2 linked regions of the Homo sapiens genome follow. The protein of the gene in region 1 purifies or fractionates together with the protein of each later gene. This does not show direct contact. Each region holds a gene or a part of one and is shown on either strand. Other genes may lie near its edges.

The links.
Region 2: the proteins of CPSF3 (region 1) and WDR33 purify together in Homo sapiens (affinity purification with mass spectrometry; 5 studies listed by BioGRID and IntAct, with this or other methods). This does not show direct contact.

The regions. Positions count from the first base shown.
Region 1 is NC_000002.12:9,419,440-9,427,618, reverse strand, and holds the start of CPSF3 (cleavage and polyadenylation specificity factor subunit 3), read right to left. Parts: upstream 3,966-8,179; 5' UTR 3,846-3,965; coding exon 3,796-3,845; exon of another isoform or gene 3,404-3,795; coding exon of another isoform or gene 3,384-3,403; exon of another isoform or gene 2,659-3,383; intron 1,087-2,658; exon of another isoform or gene 1,059-1,086; coding exon of another isoform or gene 997-1,058; intron 1-996. UniProt on the Homo sapiens protein: Component of the cleavage and polyadenylation specificity factor (CPSF) complex that plays a key role in pre-mRNA 3'-end formation, recognizing the AAUAAA signal sequence and interacting with poly(A) polymerase and other factors to bring about cleavage and poly(A) addition.
Region 2 is NC_000002.12:127,800,544-127,808,508, forward strand, and holds part of WDR33 (pre-mRNA 3' end processing protein WDR33), read right to left. Parts: intron 1-7,965. UniProt on the Homo sapiens protein: Essential for both cleavage and polyadenylation of pre-mRNA 3' ends.

The DNA of each region.
Region 1 (8,179 bases):
AACAGGTGTTGATACAGAAGATCAAACAACTGTGGATGAGAGCCGCCATAAATTCCTGGCCTTCCACTTTTTAAACATTTTTTATTTGTAATTATTGTGGATACCCTGGCCTTCCACTTTAACTGGCCCTCAATGTTGCCTGGCTGTTTTCTCCATTTCATTTCCATATCAACTATTTTCAAACTTTCTTCCCTTTCCCAAATTTTCCAACCTTCTATCCTCTTCTTCACTTGAGGCATGGGCCATCTTCTGCATCAAAAAAATAAACAGTCCATTTGTAAATTTCCTCAACTTCATGTTGGTACAATAATTAAGAATACATGTACCAACAGGGTACCAACCTGCCCACATCTGTCTCCTTCTATTTCTCCTCTATAGATAGAATAGACCTCTCTTTCCACAATGAAACTTTCCACCATTCTACTCTACGTACTCCCTCCCTCCTTCTGAGGAACTCAACACTGCTGTGTCATTGACATTTTCCTCACTGTCTGCTCTTTACCATCCAATCCAAATTTAAACATACTACAGCCATGTTCATCCCCAAATTAAAATCCCTTGACTCTAAGCTCCTTTAGTTCCCACTTTATTCTTTCCCCAGACCACCTCCCAGGGCAGTGGACCCTCTTGTACTTCCTCACCTTCTACTCGCTCCTCAATTCGCTATACTCTGGCTTTTACCAATCACTTTTCTGAAACTGTCCTTGCTGCTCAGTAGTCATTTCAGTCTTTTTTTTTTTTTTGAGACAAGGTCCCCCTATGTTGCCCAGTCTGGCCTTCAACTCCTGGGCTCAAGTGATCCTCCCGCCTCAGCCTCCCAAGTAGCTGGAACTATAGGTGTCAGTCCCTATCTTGTTCTCTTGGCAGCCGTTGTCACTCCTAAGGAGTACCTGCTCCTTCCTCAAGCACCTCTCCCTTGGCTTCTCTGACCTGATGCTCTCATCTTGTCTTGCTGGCTTTCCTGTTTCCTTCACATATTCAGCCACCTCTGCCTACCCTTTAAATGTTGATATTCCGAGGGTTTGCTCCTTGGCCAACTTCTCAATCTTCATTCTCATCTTTCTGACATGCTAAGGACTTCCAAGCCTGTATTTGTAACCCAGATTGTTCTTCTGAATTCTAGACCTTTAATACATACACGTGACACTAGGTATCTCTACTAGGATCTCTCCCGGGACTTCATATTCAAGATGCCAAACTAGTTTCCACCACATGCCCCGTACTTGCTCTACTTTCTTCCTGAAATGCTTTGTCTTCAGATATTGATGTGGTTGGCTCCTTTGTATCATTTGGGTCTCAGTTCCAACGTCACCTTCTCAGATGCTTTCCCTTGACTACCTCCTCTAATTTGCCCTTCACAGCAAGCCACAACCCAGCATCAGTTATCTTAATACAACTACATGAAGTTATTGTACCTACTTATGTCTTCTTTCAGGCTACTAAATGAAAGCTTCCTAAGAACAGAGGCATTGTCCATCTTATTCACTGCTGTATTGCTACAGTACCTGGCATGTAGCACATCACAAAAAATACTTATTGAATGAACAAAACTCCTCAATTTTGAACCTTGGAAAGATTATGCTAAATGAAAGATGCCAGAGACAAAAGAGTATGTATTGTATGATCACACTTACATGAAATGTCCAGAACAGGCAAATCTATAAAGAAGTAGATTAGTGGTTGCTTAGGGCTGGAGAGGTAGTGGGGATTGTCTATGACTGCTAATGAATACAAGGTATCTCTTGGGAGTGATGAAAATGTGCTGGAATTAGAGAGAGGTGATGGTTGTATAACTCTATGTTAAGAACGACTGAATTATACTCTTTAAATGAGTTGTATGGTATGTAAATTGTGAGTTGTATGGTATGTAAACTGTATCTCAATAAAGCTGTTACGAAACAACCAAATTCCCAAATTTACTCCAGAGTTGCCCCATCTCTTATACTCCTTGAGTGAATAACACTACCCTTTCCCAACTGCCAAACTTAGGAATCTGATCATAACATCCTCTCTGCCCTGCCTTCCCTCCCCACAACCACCCTTCCAGATACAGCTGATCAGCCACAAAATCCTGAAGATCTCATTTGCATACTCTCTCACACTCACATCACTCACTACAGGCTCTCGTCAGCTAGACTTAGAATCTTTCAATATCTCACTGAATCTGCTCTACTCAATCCATGCTTTTATTCATCCATGCTTTTATTCATCTGCTACACTGCTGCCAGGAGAGATTTTCCTAAAACATAATTCCCACAATATCCATGCTTGCTTAATAGCCTTCGCTGGCTCCCTGTAATTGACTTGATAAAGGTCCAAACTCCTGTGTATACGAGGTGCTTCCTAAACTGGACCTCAACTGCCTGTCGCTTCATCTGCTAACTCAACTCTTTAGCTACAGCCATGAGGAATCTGGCCACAAGCTGTGACCACTCTCACTTTCATATGTGCCACTTCCACTGCCTAGAACATCCTGGGCCCCCCAGTCTTTAACTCCTACTCATTCTTTAGGACTCAGCTCAGGCATCACATTTTTCAGGATCCACGAGGTATCCTTTTTTCCTCAATCTGTCAGAAATCCCTTTTCCATACTTTCACAGTGCTCAGTGCAATGCCTGCCTGCGTTCTTAGATTAGCTATTATTTACAAAGCACCTACCGCGATGTTCACTCTTCAAGTTTTATCTTATTTCCATATGAGAAAACGGGTTCAGTGAGATTGTTGTCCTACTAATTGGTCAAGTAGATAATGGACTTCAGGTCTGACTTCAAAGTAATAGTCTCCTATTATTCCAAAGTATCTCTCCAATATTTCCCACTGTGCACTGTAATTCTCTCCAAAAGAGCGAGAGCAATTAACTGGGCCCTCTGTTGCGTCTATATCCCCATGTGTGGTGCTTGACACTTGCTCAGTGTTTGCTCATCACAGGAAGACATGACAGGTGTGAACTAAGCAGAAGGAAACGGACTATGTCCCAAGCAGGTGCTCAATGAAGCCTTACTGAATGATTGTGTAAAGGAGATACTTTCTACCTTTTGGAAAGCGTATATTCATGTTGTGCCAACTAGTATCTAACAATAAACATGTTGTGGGTTCGAAATGCTCATCTGTAGGAATTCAAGTTCTCTACATTTGCATCTCCCCTTCAGCAGCATTCCCGACTGATGAGGATCGTGTCCACTGAAAGGCCACTCTCCTTATGGACAGTCGAGGGCTGAGTTTTTGTCCCTAACACCTCTGCACTTTCTCTTCTCCAGCTTTACACCTTCCTTATTCTACTAGGGCCTGAGCTGAGAAGATCGAAACTCACGGCAAGTCCCTAATATTTTCTAACTTCTGGCACATGTGAAGCCCTGGTGTTAAGAAACAGACTTAATTCTTCCCTGCACGGCTGTAGCCTCATTCAGGTCCTCCTCTCATCCTGTCGGTCATAAGCTTCACCGGCTCCCTCACAGCTTGCCCTGACGCGCAGAGATCCGTGCTTGTGCTAAGTGAAAACGCTTCTTAGCGTGTACGAAAGCGAGCGGTGGCCCCGTAAAACTTTTTTTTTTCCGACTCCAACATACCCTCCCCTGAAACTGATGAAAAAGCAAAATCCCGTTCACTCTATAGCAGGCCCCTTCCGATCAACGGTCCTCCAACCCCTCGAGCCTGAGAAGCCTGGCCCGCAAGCGCGGACCAAAGGCAGGCTGCCGGGGTAGGTGGGAGCGCGGGCGACGGAGGAGGCCAGTCTCCGGTTACCCCTCGCGCCCCTCACAGCCCGTGGCTTCATTCCCTCTCTCGCTGGTCCCTTACAGGGGTCGGATCAGCAGCTGGTCGCTCTCCTCAGCAGGAATCGCAGACATCCCGAAAGTGTGAGGGCGAAGCGGGGGTGAGGAACAGGTCGCCGGGGTCTTCCTAAATTGGAAGCACAGCCACCGGTAAATAAAAAAGGAAGAACCCCATTCACCAAGAGCACAACTTCCGTCACTCCGGAGCCCGCGGCACTAGACTCCTCCCCTCGACTTCCGGTCGGGGGACGCCGCTCGCGAGGCTTCCCACCACTTGGGGTCTTGGAACCGGGGGTAGGACGTCAGGACTGCGCCTGCGCATAGTCTTGGAGGCGCGGCCCGGCGGACGTGGGCAGGAGGGCTGGAAAAGCCGGCGCTGGAGCGGGAACGGGAGTAGCTGCCTGGGCGCCAAAGGCCGCGGCACTCCCACGCGGACCCCGAAGTCCGCAACCCGGGGATGGGCCCGCGGCTGCGAGGTGAGCGCCCAGCCCTCGTCCCGCTTGGGGCCGAGCTCGCGGAGGCCTGACGGGAACACGGTCCCGAGAGCGGCGCGGACGGCCAGGAAGGATGGGTGGGGCCGCGGGGCGGGCGGAGGAGGGATGCCTGGGCTCGGGCTTGGTTCCGGGCGGGGCCGCGCTCCCGGGGCGCGGGTGGAGGAGCTTGGAACCACGCAGATCGGGCGTGGGCTTGCGGACTGCAGCTTCCCGAGCCGCTGTCGCCCCGGAGGGGCGGCAAGGCGGGCGGCCGCGGGCCGTTTCCTTGCCTCTTCCTCTGCCCCGCTTCGGCCGCCTCCCGCCTCTCAGGGTCGGGGTTGTCTGTCCCCTTCGCTGTCACATCCTCCGCACCCAGCGCTTGGAAGGTGCTCCATCACGGTGACAGACAGGTGCCAAGCAGGCTGGCGTCTGGGAGGAACTTCGGAGCCGGCTCTCCCTAGGCCCCGAGCTTGGCCGCATCCGTCCTTACTCTGGTGACCCTGGGCAGGTCACTGACTCTTCGGGCGCTTTGGCATCCTCGTTTGAAAGGGGCTGTTATCCTGCAGCCTTGCTGGTCGGTGAGGGTGAGGGTGAGAGGGATCTGTGCACCTAGCACCGTGCATGGCACGTGGTAGGCGTTTGGTACATGGGAATCGCTGTTGGGGTGTCACCTCCCCAGAAAGTTCTCGGCTTCAGTAAGCGCGTCCCCTGCCAGGCGCCCTGGCAATGCAGAGGAGTCACCGAGCTCCGCCTTTGACCAGCGTGCAGCTGGGAGAGTGAGATCAGAGACCACAGCAGATCGTGGCGCTGTGATCAGGGGGTACACTCAAGCTGTGGGTCCCTTACCCCAGCCTTGAGATCCCAGGAAGGCCTGCAGCCTGAAACGGGCCTTGAAAGGTAAGAAGTAGCCAAGTGCCTGACAGGTGAAGGACGTCCCGGGCGGTGCAAAGCAGGGGCGCGTGGAGCATCGCGCTGAGAACCAGGAGCAGCTTTGCCTTGCTGAGATCAATGAACTGTGCCCGGGTTGTGGAGGATGGAAGTGGAAAGGTGATTAGGAGCTGGGTCCTGGAGGACCTGGCGTGTCGTGCTGAAGAACGTTGACTTTGGTCTCTGACTTTGGAGAACCAGTGAAAGATTTTCAGCAGGCTAGTGGCATTAGATTCATGTTTGAAAGAAATCATTTTAATCGTTTTGGCTGCAGTGTGGGGGTAGATTTAAAGTGTTAGGGAATCCAGTAGGACAAGGTCCCTTATCCACGAAATATCCTTGGGTTTGTGAATTCCTTAAATTCATGCCAAACTTTGTATGGATGTGCATTTTTATAGGGTGAGGATCCATCACATTCATCAGTTTCTAAAAAAATAGTGTCTGTGCCCATGGTTTAGGATGACGGGGGCCCTGGTGGAGAGCTGGCTCAGAGAGCTCTTCAGGTGGGGTATACAGTGGGTCTTGGTGCCAGATTGGATGTGGGGCCTGAAGGACAGCAAGGAAATCATGATTTTCTGGCTTCCTCCAGCAATAATAGAATCTCCTGACAGGGAGAGGAGAGGAGAGGAGCAGATCTGGAGGGGAGGATGATGGGTTCAGCTTGAGACATCTTTGCATTTGATGAGCCTGCGGAGCATCCAATCGCCAATCAGGATCATTGGCCTCATTTTGATGCATGAATAATTTTTTTTTTTTTTTTTTGAGACGGAGTCTCGCTCTTTCGTCCAGGCTGGAGTGCAGTGGCGCGATCTCGGCTCACTGCAAGCTCCGCCTCCCGGGTTCACGCCATTCTCCTGCCTCAGGCTCCTGAGTAGCTGGGACTACAGGCGCCCACCACCACGCACAGCCAATTTTTTGTATTTTTAGTAGAGACGGGGTTTCACCATGTTAGCCAGGATGGTCTCGATCTCCTGACCTCGTGATCCGCCCGACTTGGCCTCCCAAAGTGCTGGGATTACAGGCGTGAGCCACCCATGAATAATTTTGAGGCAAGAATGATTTGCTTGAGAACATGCATCAAAATTGCAGCAGATATCAAAGACTTTAATAAATGCTGCTTTTTCCTAAGCCGCTGGGTTGATGATGAAAAGAAAGCCTTAAGGAGTTGCTAAGGCATTGTCGTGTCATGATTTTCATATCAAGGGATTTGAGGAGACACTTCAGGATTCCACTGACAGTAGAATCACATTTTGTTTTTAAAATAAGTTTTGATTTAAAATTCAAATCATATTTAAAATTGTTACCTATATATAAATATGTATTTATATATACTTAAGTATCTGATGTTTAAATATGTTACACATCAACATTTTAACCCGTGAGCGCCATTAACATGGCACTTTATGCTGCTACGTTAACCTAGTTTCGTGCAGGCCTTGGAATAAGGCTCTCCTGCCATCTCTCACTGACAAGTGTCCTGTGCTGGTAAGGTTCCCCTTTGCAGCAATCACCCGCAGTCTTCTTCCAACACATCTCTCACTTTTTACCCTTATCCAGTGGAGTTAGTTCGCTATCTGGCAGCCAGGGTCATCGTTTAAAAAACAGAAGACACCTGATTGTGTCGCTAAACTGCTTTTTAAAAGCCTCCATTCCAGAAGATCACAGCAGATAAGCAAAAAATAAATAAAAAGCCTTCAGAGTATTCCTCTTAAACTAAAGTCCACTGTTACCGCGGCCTGCCTGGCCTTCTGTGGCACTTTGGGCCCATTGCTGTCCTCCTGCTCCCGGACAGCCTTGACTGTTCCCTCGGGCCCCTCTCCACCCGCACGGCATTGCCTCCAGGCTATTTATGGCTGCCCGCACTTCTTTCAGAAAAAGAGCTACAGCATCTTTTTCTGAAATACCCACCCCTTCCTTCCATTAGTCTGTGTCTCCTCAACTTGTGTTAGTTTTCCTCATAGCAGTGGTTTCCTAATAATATGTTTCATGTGTGTTTTTCTTGTTGGTCTGTCTACTCTCGCTAAGAACAGGCTCCCTGAGGTCAGGGGCTCTGTTTGGTTCACTGATGCATCCCCGACACCTGGTAGGTGCTCACTGACTATCCAGGAATGAATGAATAAATCAGATTTTCCTGGTACCCCACAAATAAAGCAAAAATATAGAAGTAAATTGGATGATGAGGCTGATTAAAAAGCTTGGGCTCAGTGGTCAGACTTGGGCAAGTGGCCTAATGTCGTCCCCTAGTAAGTGGACTTAGAGTGGGGTCTCCAAATACGGAGAATCTTTGGGTTGCAGCAGGAGCTTTCACTGACTGCTGCGTGAGTTGCTCGTTCTTTTTCCTTCATCAGGTGCGTAGTTTCTCTGAAAAGCATCACCCAGGTCAGAATGAAAGGAAACTCTCTGTGCAGACCGCTGTATGTGGGACCTTTGAAGACAGTCAAATAGTGTTCAATTCTATAGTAAGCAGATTTTCTTGTTCTCTCTGGAGAATACAGTTTTTGGTAAAAAATTGATCAGGTTATCTTATTCATAAATCGTCTTGAGAGGCAGGTCACAGTTCCCTCATCTGTAAAAGGCAGATTACAGCCCACCTTCTGTGAGCCCCTTGAGGGAGAGCTTAGAGCCCTGCAGAGTGTGTGGCATATGGTATGCCCTTAAAAAGCATCAGTAGAGCAAATGGATATGTCACAAGGTTATCATGAGGCTATGACAGTAGAACTGTCCCGGGAGTTCTGTGAGCTGTGCAGCTTCATGTAGGTTAGTTAATTTGCCAAGTATAGTATATGCTGTCCTTATGCAACTGGCAAGGATGAATCTTAGTTTCCAATGCATTTATTATTATTAATTTCAAAAAAAGAAATATGTAACACAGACTCTGGGAGGCAAGGTCATCTCCTTAACTACGCTTAATAGAGAGGGGAGGTGAGGTGCTGGCACCTGGGAATGTCTTTGTGTCAGCTTTTACTTAAAGGTATTTCAAAACTTCAAGAAAAATGCACATTTCTGAGA
Region 2 (7,965 bases), about 120 Mb from region 1:
GGAGAATGGCATGAACCCAGGAGTCGGAGCTTGCAGTGAGCTGAGATCGCATCACTGCACTCCAGCCTGGGCAACATAATGAGACTCCGTCTCAAAAAAAAAAAAAAAAAACCAACAAGCAAAAAAATTCAAATGTTATGAAGGAATTGCAGAGGGAAAAAAATAATAATAAAACCATAGACTTTACAAAGCCTATTTCTGTAAACTGTACTTGGCCCTGAGTTTTAATTTAAATCTATTCCTGTATATGAAACTGAAACTTTATTAAAGCTATTTAAGACAGAAATCTCCTTCCTTTTACAAAAAATAATTGTGTACACAGTATTGCCACAATAAACTGGTTAAAGCTCTTTACTGAAACTTTTAACAGTCTAACTTCTGAAACTCAATGATAGCTGTAGTGATGGAATATTACTATTATTGGGCTGTAAAACTTTAGGATGGGCATAGTGGCTCATGCCTATTGTAATCTCAGCACTTCAGGAAGCCGAAGTGGGAAGATGGAGCCCAGGAGTTTGAGACCAGCCAGGACAGACAACATAGTGAGACCCTGTCTCTAGGAAAAAAAAAAAAAAGAAAAGAAAAACAAAATTAGCCAGGCATGGTGACATACACCTGTTGTCCCAGCCGCTCGGGAGGCTAAGGCAGGAGGTTTGCTTGAGCCCGGGACGTTGAGGCACAGTGAGCTATGATTATACCACTGTACTCCAGCAGGGGTAACAGAAGGAGACCTTTTCTCAGAGGAAAAACACACACAGACACAGAAAATAATAACTGTTGGTAAGAACATGAAGAAATTGGAACCATTGTGTACTGACTGTAAAATGGTACAATGAGGCTGGGCATGGTGGCTCACACCTGTAATCCTAGCACTTTGGGAGGCCATGGTGGGAGGATCACTTTGAGGCGAAGACCAGCCTGAGCAACACAGTGAGACTCTGTCTCTAAAAAACAAACAAACAAACAAAAAACACACAACAAAAAAAAAAAAAACAGTACAATCACTATGAAAAACAGTATAGAGGTTCTTCAAAAATGTTAAAAACAGAATTACATTATGAGCCAGGTGCAGTGGTTCATGCCTATCTCAGGACTTTGTGGAGCGGAGGCATGTGCATCACTTGAGGTTAGGAGTTCAAGACCAGCCTAGCCAACATGGTGAAATCCCATCTCTACTAAAAATACAAAAAATTAGCTGGGCGTGGTGGTGCACACCTGTAGTGCCAGCTACTCGGGAGACTGAGGCAGGATAATTGTTTGAACCCAGGAGACGGATGCTGCAGTGAGCCGAGATCGTGCCACTGCACTCCTGCCTGGGTGATACAGTGAGACTCCATCTCAAAAAAAATGGTTAAGGCCAGGCACAGTGGCTCCTGCTTGTAATCCCAGCACTTTGGGAGGCTGAGGCAGGCAGATCACTTGAGGTCAGGAATTCCAGACCACCCTGGCCAACATGGTAAAACCCCGTCTCTACTAAAAATACAAAAATTAGCCAGGTGTGGTGGCATGCACCTGTAGTCCCAGCTACTCAGGAGGCTGAGGCAGGAGAATCACTTGAACCCAGGAGTGAGCTGAGATCACGCCACTGCACTCCAGCCTGGAGGAGAGAGCAAGACTCCGACTCAAAAAAAAAAAATTAAGACAGTAAAATTTTGCTATGCATTTATCACAATTTATAAAAAAAAAAATCAAGTGTCACAAGCATATACAGCATGCCAACTTTCTTCTAAGAATGTGAAAATAAGAATATACACAGTAAAAACTGGAATGAACTCCAGAGCTCAGAGACAGAAGCAAGACTTAACTACTTTTTCTTCAGCCTCCGTCTCCTGGGTGCAAGCAATTCTCCTGCCTCATCCTTCAGAGTAGCTGGGATTACAGGCATGTGCCACCACGCCTGGCTAATTTTTGTATTTTTAGTAGAGATGGGGTTTCACCATGTTGGCCAGGCTGGTCTCAAACTCCTGACCCCAGGTGATCTGCCCCCCTCGGCCTCCCAAAGTGCTGGGATTACAGATGTGAGCCACCACGCCCAGCCAGTACTTTTTCAATATAGTATTTAATTTTATTCCTTCTTGGTCACAGGTGCTTAAAAATTTTTTTTCAGTAGATTTTAAACCATGTAAATAACGTATTAAAAAAACTAAATTACGTCTGGGTGCAGTGGCTCATGCCTTGTAATCCTAGTATTTTGGGAGGCTGAGGAGGGAGGAACCGATGACCCCAGGAGTTCGAGCCCAGACTGGGCAACATGGCAAAACCCAGACTATACCAAAAAACACAAAAAATTAGCCAGGCATGGTGGTGCGCACTTGTCGTTCCAGCTACTTGGGAGGCTGAGGTGGGAGGATCACCCAAACCTGCGAGGTTGAGGCTACAGGGAGCCAAAACTGCACCACTACACTCCAGCCTAGGTAACAGATTGAGATCTTGTCTCAAAAACAAACAAACAAAAAAACTAAATTAAGAGGGAGAAAAAGCAAACCCTAATAATGAATACAAACAAAAACTGTGAAATTTGATAATCAAAATAAACAAATTCAACAAACAAGCTGAAAAATGTTATTTCAAGTAACTTTTGAAGAAAGTTCATCTTTAATGCAGTATACGCTAAGAAAAAAAAGGACTGGAAAAAAAACTGCACTTGGTAGGGTTATTGTTAGTAAAATACTGGCATTATAAATCTGACTCTGTTTTCTGTGTAGAAAATGCCACTAATGTTAACTTTGATTAGGAATTTAAAATACCAATGTAGGCCAGGCACAGTGGCTCACGTCTGTAATCCCAACACTTTGAGAGGCCAAAGTGAGCGGATCACTTAAGGCCAGGGGTTCGAGACCAGCCTGGCCAATATGGTAAAACCCCATCTCTACTAAAAATACAAAAATTAGCCAGACGCCTGTAATCCTAGCTGCTCGGGAGGCTGAGGCACAAGAATCGCTTCAACCCAGGAGGCAGAGGTTGCAATGAGCCAAGATTGCACAACTGCACTCCAGCCTAGGTGACAGAGGGAGACTGTCTCAAAAAATAAATAAAATAAAATACCAATGTAAGCTGATGATTTTTAATATCATGTTTTCTAGCTCTGTCCACTGAAAAGGGCATACAAGCAAATGCATACACCACCAAGCATCCAAATCCTGGTTTATAAATAATATTTTCTACCAAAAGAACTGGGACTCCTTGGAGAAATGGGAAGATACAAAAGGAAAGGAAAAGACAAGAAGGACTTGGGTTATTGTTTTGCCAAAAAAGCAAAGGAGCCCTCAAATTAACTGGGGTTAGTGCCAGGTGCTTGGGAGACTGAGGTAGGAGAATCACTTGAGCCCAGGAGTTCCAGGCTGCAGGCAGCTATGATCTTGCCACTGCACTCTAGCCTGGGCAACGAAGTGAGACCCAGTCTCAAAAAAAAAAAAAAAAAAAAAGACCAAAAGCAATAAGGGCCAAATACCTGCTCCTGCTTAAAGACTAAAGAGATACGAAATATCTAGATTGGGACCGGGTGCGGTGGCTCACACCCGTAATCCCAGCACTTTGGGAGGCCGAGGAGGGTGGATCACAAGGTCAGGAGATCGAGACCATCCTGGCTAACACGGTGAAACCCTGTCTCTACTAAAAATACAAAAAATTAGCCAGGCATGGTGGCGGGCGCCTGTAGTCCCAGCTACTCGGGAGGTTGAGGCAGGAGAATGGCGTGAACCCGGGAGGCGGAGCTTGCAGTGAGCCAAGATCATCCCAGCCTGGGAGACAGAGCGAGACTCTGTCTCAAAAAATAAATAAAAAAAGAAAAGAAATATCTAGATTGGATACTGGATTAGAGAAAGAAAAATTCTGTGAGATGTTACTGAGACAACTAGAGAAATTTGAGTATGAATTTTCAATACTATATAAATGTTCAATGTCCAGAATTAGTTAATATTGCGGGTACTTAACTTGTTCTTGAGCAGAGAAGTGCGGAGAAGTGCATATCTGTGAATAACACTAAATGGCTCCGAAAATAATACATGAGGGGCTGGGAGGCAGGAAGGGAGGAATAAAGCAAATGTGACAAAATGTTAAAAATGGGTGAATCAGAATAAAAAGTACATAGGAGTTCTTTGAACTATTCTTCCAACTCTTCTGTTAGTTCATATTTATTTCAAAATTTAAACATTTAAACACGAAAGGGGGAAAGCAAAAGCTCTTTATTACAGAAAACAGTTAATGAATATAAACAAATAACAAAATTAGAAAACCCCCAATAAATGACTCAGCTAATAATCATCAATCATTAAGTGAAAAATATTTTGAGAAGTGAGGTACTCACATGATGCTAAAGTTATCACCCCACAGATCAAGTATAACTGCAAAGGGAAAAATATACCTCTTTGATGAAGAAATCCAATGGACACATTAACCAGGTAAATTTGGCATTGTAAATAACGCAAGCTAACATCTGGCAGTCCCTACCACCTTATTGAAGGCTCATAGCTAGAAGTATATCCTCACAACATAAATCACGTATCATCACCTGTGAAGTTTTTTCTTTTTTTTTTTTTTTTTTTTTTTTTTTTTGAGACAGGGTTCTCTTGTCGCCTAGGCTGGAGTACAGCAGCAGGATGTCGGCTCACTGCAGCCTCCACCTCTCTGGCTCAAGCCATCCTCCTGTCTCAACCTCCCAAGTAGCTGGGACTACAGGCGCAGGCCACCAAACCCAGCATTTTTTTTTCTTTTTTTAAAATAGAGACAGGGTTTTGCCAAATTGTCCAGGCTGGTCTTGAACTCCTGGGCTCTAGCAATCCATCTGCCTCAGCCTCTCAAAGTGCTGGGATTACAGACATGAGCCAGCGCACCTGGCCTCTATGAAGTATTTTTGCCAAAAATATTTGACCCAAATTTAGTCAAACCTCTCTAGATCTAACTTCTAGTTTACAGGAAATAAAAGGAATAGAGAAACAACAGGAATTGAGAAACAAAATACATGACATTTTAAGCATACAATAAGAAATTCCAAAATATGGAACGTTCTTTAAAAAGATGAGGCTAGCTGTTTGTGGTGACAGAGTCAGGAAGGGGCAGCAGGTGCCAGGTCCGGCCTCAAAGGTGGCAAGAAGAACCCTTTGAAACTGCCCAAAAAGCAGGCCAAGAAGATGAATAAGGCTTTCAAGCAGAAACAAGAAAAGGAACGAAAGAAACACAAGGAGCTAAAAGCGAAAGCCTCCTGGAAGGGGCTCCGGCCACAGGTGGAATTTAAAAATCTGGCAGAAAGTAAGCTGTGCCCTGTGCCTGAAGCAATGGTGACCCTTGATTTCATTCGTATTTAAACATCTGTATTCCCTGCCATAATATCTGTTGCCACCTATAGCTGGAATGAAGTGTCGTCTTGAAGCTGGAGTCTACTGCACATTAAAGAATAAACTTTTGTTTAAAAAAAAAAAAAAAACCGCAGGTGTGGTGGCTCACACCTGTAATCCTAGCACTTTGTGAGGCCAAGGTGGGCAGATTGCTTGAGCTGGGAGGTTGAGGCTGCAGTGAGCTGTGATTGTGCCACTGCACTCCAACCTGGATGACAAAGTAAGACCCTGTCTCAAAATAAACAAAATTTTAAAATTTTAAATAAAAAATATTAATAAAATAAATTAAAATGCTTACAGTGGCTCATCATCTCTTTAGTTGTTTTTCTTTTTCTTTTTTTTTTTTTTTTTGAGACAGTCTCGCTCTGTTGCCCTGGCTGCAGTGCAGTGGCACAATTTCAGCTCACTACAACCTCCACCTCCTGGGTTCAAGCGATTCTCATGCCTCAGTCTCCCGAGTAGCTGGGACTACAGGCATGCGCAACCACACCCGGCTAATTTTTGTATTTTTAGTAGAGACGAGGTTACACAATGTTGGCCAGGCTGGTCTCAAACTCCTGACCTCAGGTGATCTGCTCACCTCAGCCTCCCAAGTGCTGGGATTACAGGCGTGAGCCACTGCGCCCGGCCTCTCTTTAGTTGTTTTCACTCCATTCCTGCCTTAGCTATGAATTTAAAGTAAAACCAGCCCAGAATCTTGCCAGAGACTGCTCTTTGGTCTTTGTTCTACCCTAAACTCTGTGTAACCTAGAATTAAACCAACTCTTCAACAACTGTGGAACAAAGCCAAAAAAAAATAGAACTACACCAACTCATTCGAAAAAAAAAAAAAGATGATGCTAAAGATTTCATGCTAATTGCCTTAGGTATGATAATGATTTTATATGTTTTCAGCTGGAGACTGGCTTGAAATAAAAATGTAGAAAAGCGTAGGAAAAAGCATTATTTCAAAGACATGCATCCTGAGGTATTACAGGGAAAAGCAGTATATCTGCAATTTAATTTCAAATCATTCAAGAAAGGGAGGATATAGAGTTAAAGCAAAATGGTTAAATGTTGGTTAACAGTCGAATCCAAACAGAAGGCATATGGGTGTTCACTGTAGTATTCTTTCACCTTTGCTGCATGTTTGAAATTTTTTTTTTTAAGACGGCATTTCACTCTTGTTGCCCAGGCTGAAGTACAATGCGCAATCTCAGCTCACTGCAACCTCCGCCTCCAAGGTTGAAGCAATTCTCTTGCCTCAGCTTCCCAAGTAGCTGGGATTACAGGAATGTGCCACCACGCCCAGCTAATTTTTTTTGTATTTAGTAGGGATGGGGTTTCACCATGTTGGCCAGGCTGGTCTTGAACTCCTGACCTCAGGTGATCCACCTGCCTCGGCCTCCCAAAGTGCTGGGATTACAGATGTGAGCCACTGCACCTGGCTTGAAATTTCTTAAAGTTGCAAAAAAGTTACCAGAATATTCCATATACCAAAAAAGGAAAATTGCTGCTCCACCTACTAAGTTGAGAGCAAACAGAGTAGAGAGCAGGTGCCTATAACAACAAACTGCCTAAAGCACAGTTTTGCACGTATCATCCCACTCAAGGATCTGCTCAAAATGGTAAGGCATAGAGGCAGGTACTAATGGGACACAAAGTAACAGAAGGCAGTCACACAGACACTAGACTAACTAAACAAGTTATGAATAAATGAGAGTCACTGAAGACCTCATTAATTGGATTTAGCTGGATTTTAAGGACTGAACAGAATAGGAATAGTGTGAAAGGAAGGAGAATACAATCTAGGCAAAGAGTTAATAAGCAACAGCCAAAGATCAGAAATAAACCAAGTCATGAGGGGAATTTTTGTAGAAAATTCATTCTTCAATTTGTATAATGCCTAGGTTTTAGGAATACAAAAATATAAGGTACTATAGCACGTCTTCAACGTGCTCACAAAGAGCTGGCAGCAGGGACTCATGACTCCCAAGACTTTGAAAGGCTGAAGTGGGAGGATCGCTTGAGCCTAGGAATTAGAGGCTACAGTGAGCCATGATCATGCCACTGTATTCCAGCCTGGGTGACAAAGTGAGACCCTGTCTCAGAAAACAAACAAACAAACTAAAAACCAAAGTATTCACAAGTAGTGGAGAAGGTATAGTCAAAATACATTAAAGATATATACAAAATGCTTTAATAGCAGAGAAAGGAGTGATTAACTTATCAGAGGAATGAGATTGTCAGTAAATTTCAACAAAGATATTTGAGTTAATGTTTAAAACTGAAAATGATGTCACCAATTAAATTCATCACAGAAAGAAAAAAAATGTTAACATTTAAAGAATGCCTACTATATATGAGGCACTTTTTACCTTTAGGTTTTATAGTTAACATTCTTATATACAAAGAAACTGAAGCTTAGAGAGTTTAATTAACTGACCCAATATAAAAAAGGTAGTTAATGGTGAGCCTGGCATTCAAACCTAGGTCCATTTGCTGCTGAAACCCATACATGCCCTTTCCAATACTACCTAGCTCTGGGAATTTATAAGCACACAAATCATGAGTACAAGATACAATACAACTTTAGAAAGTCAGTCACTACCAGAAAATTAGTAAAATGTTTAAGGGCCAGACAGATGAGAGT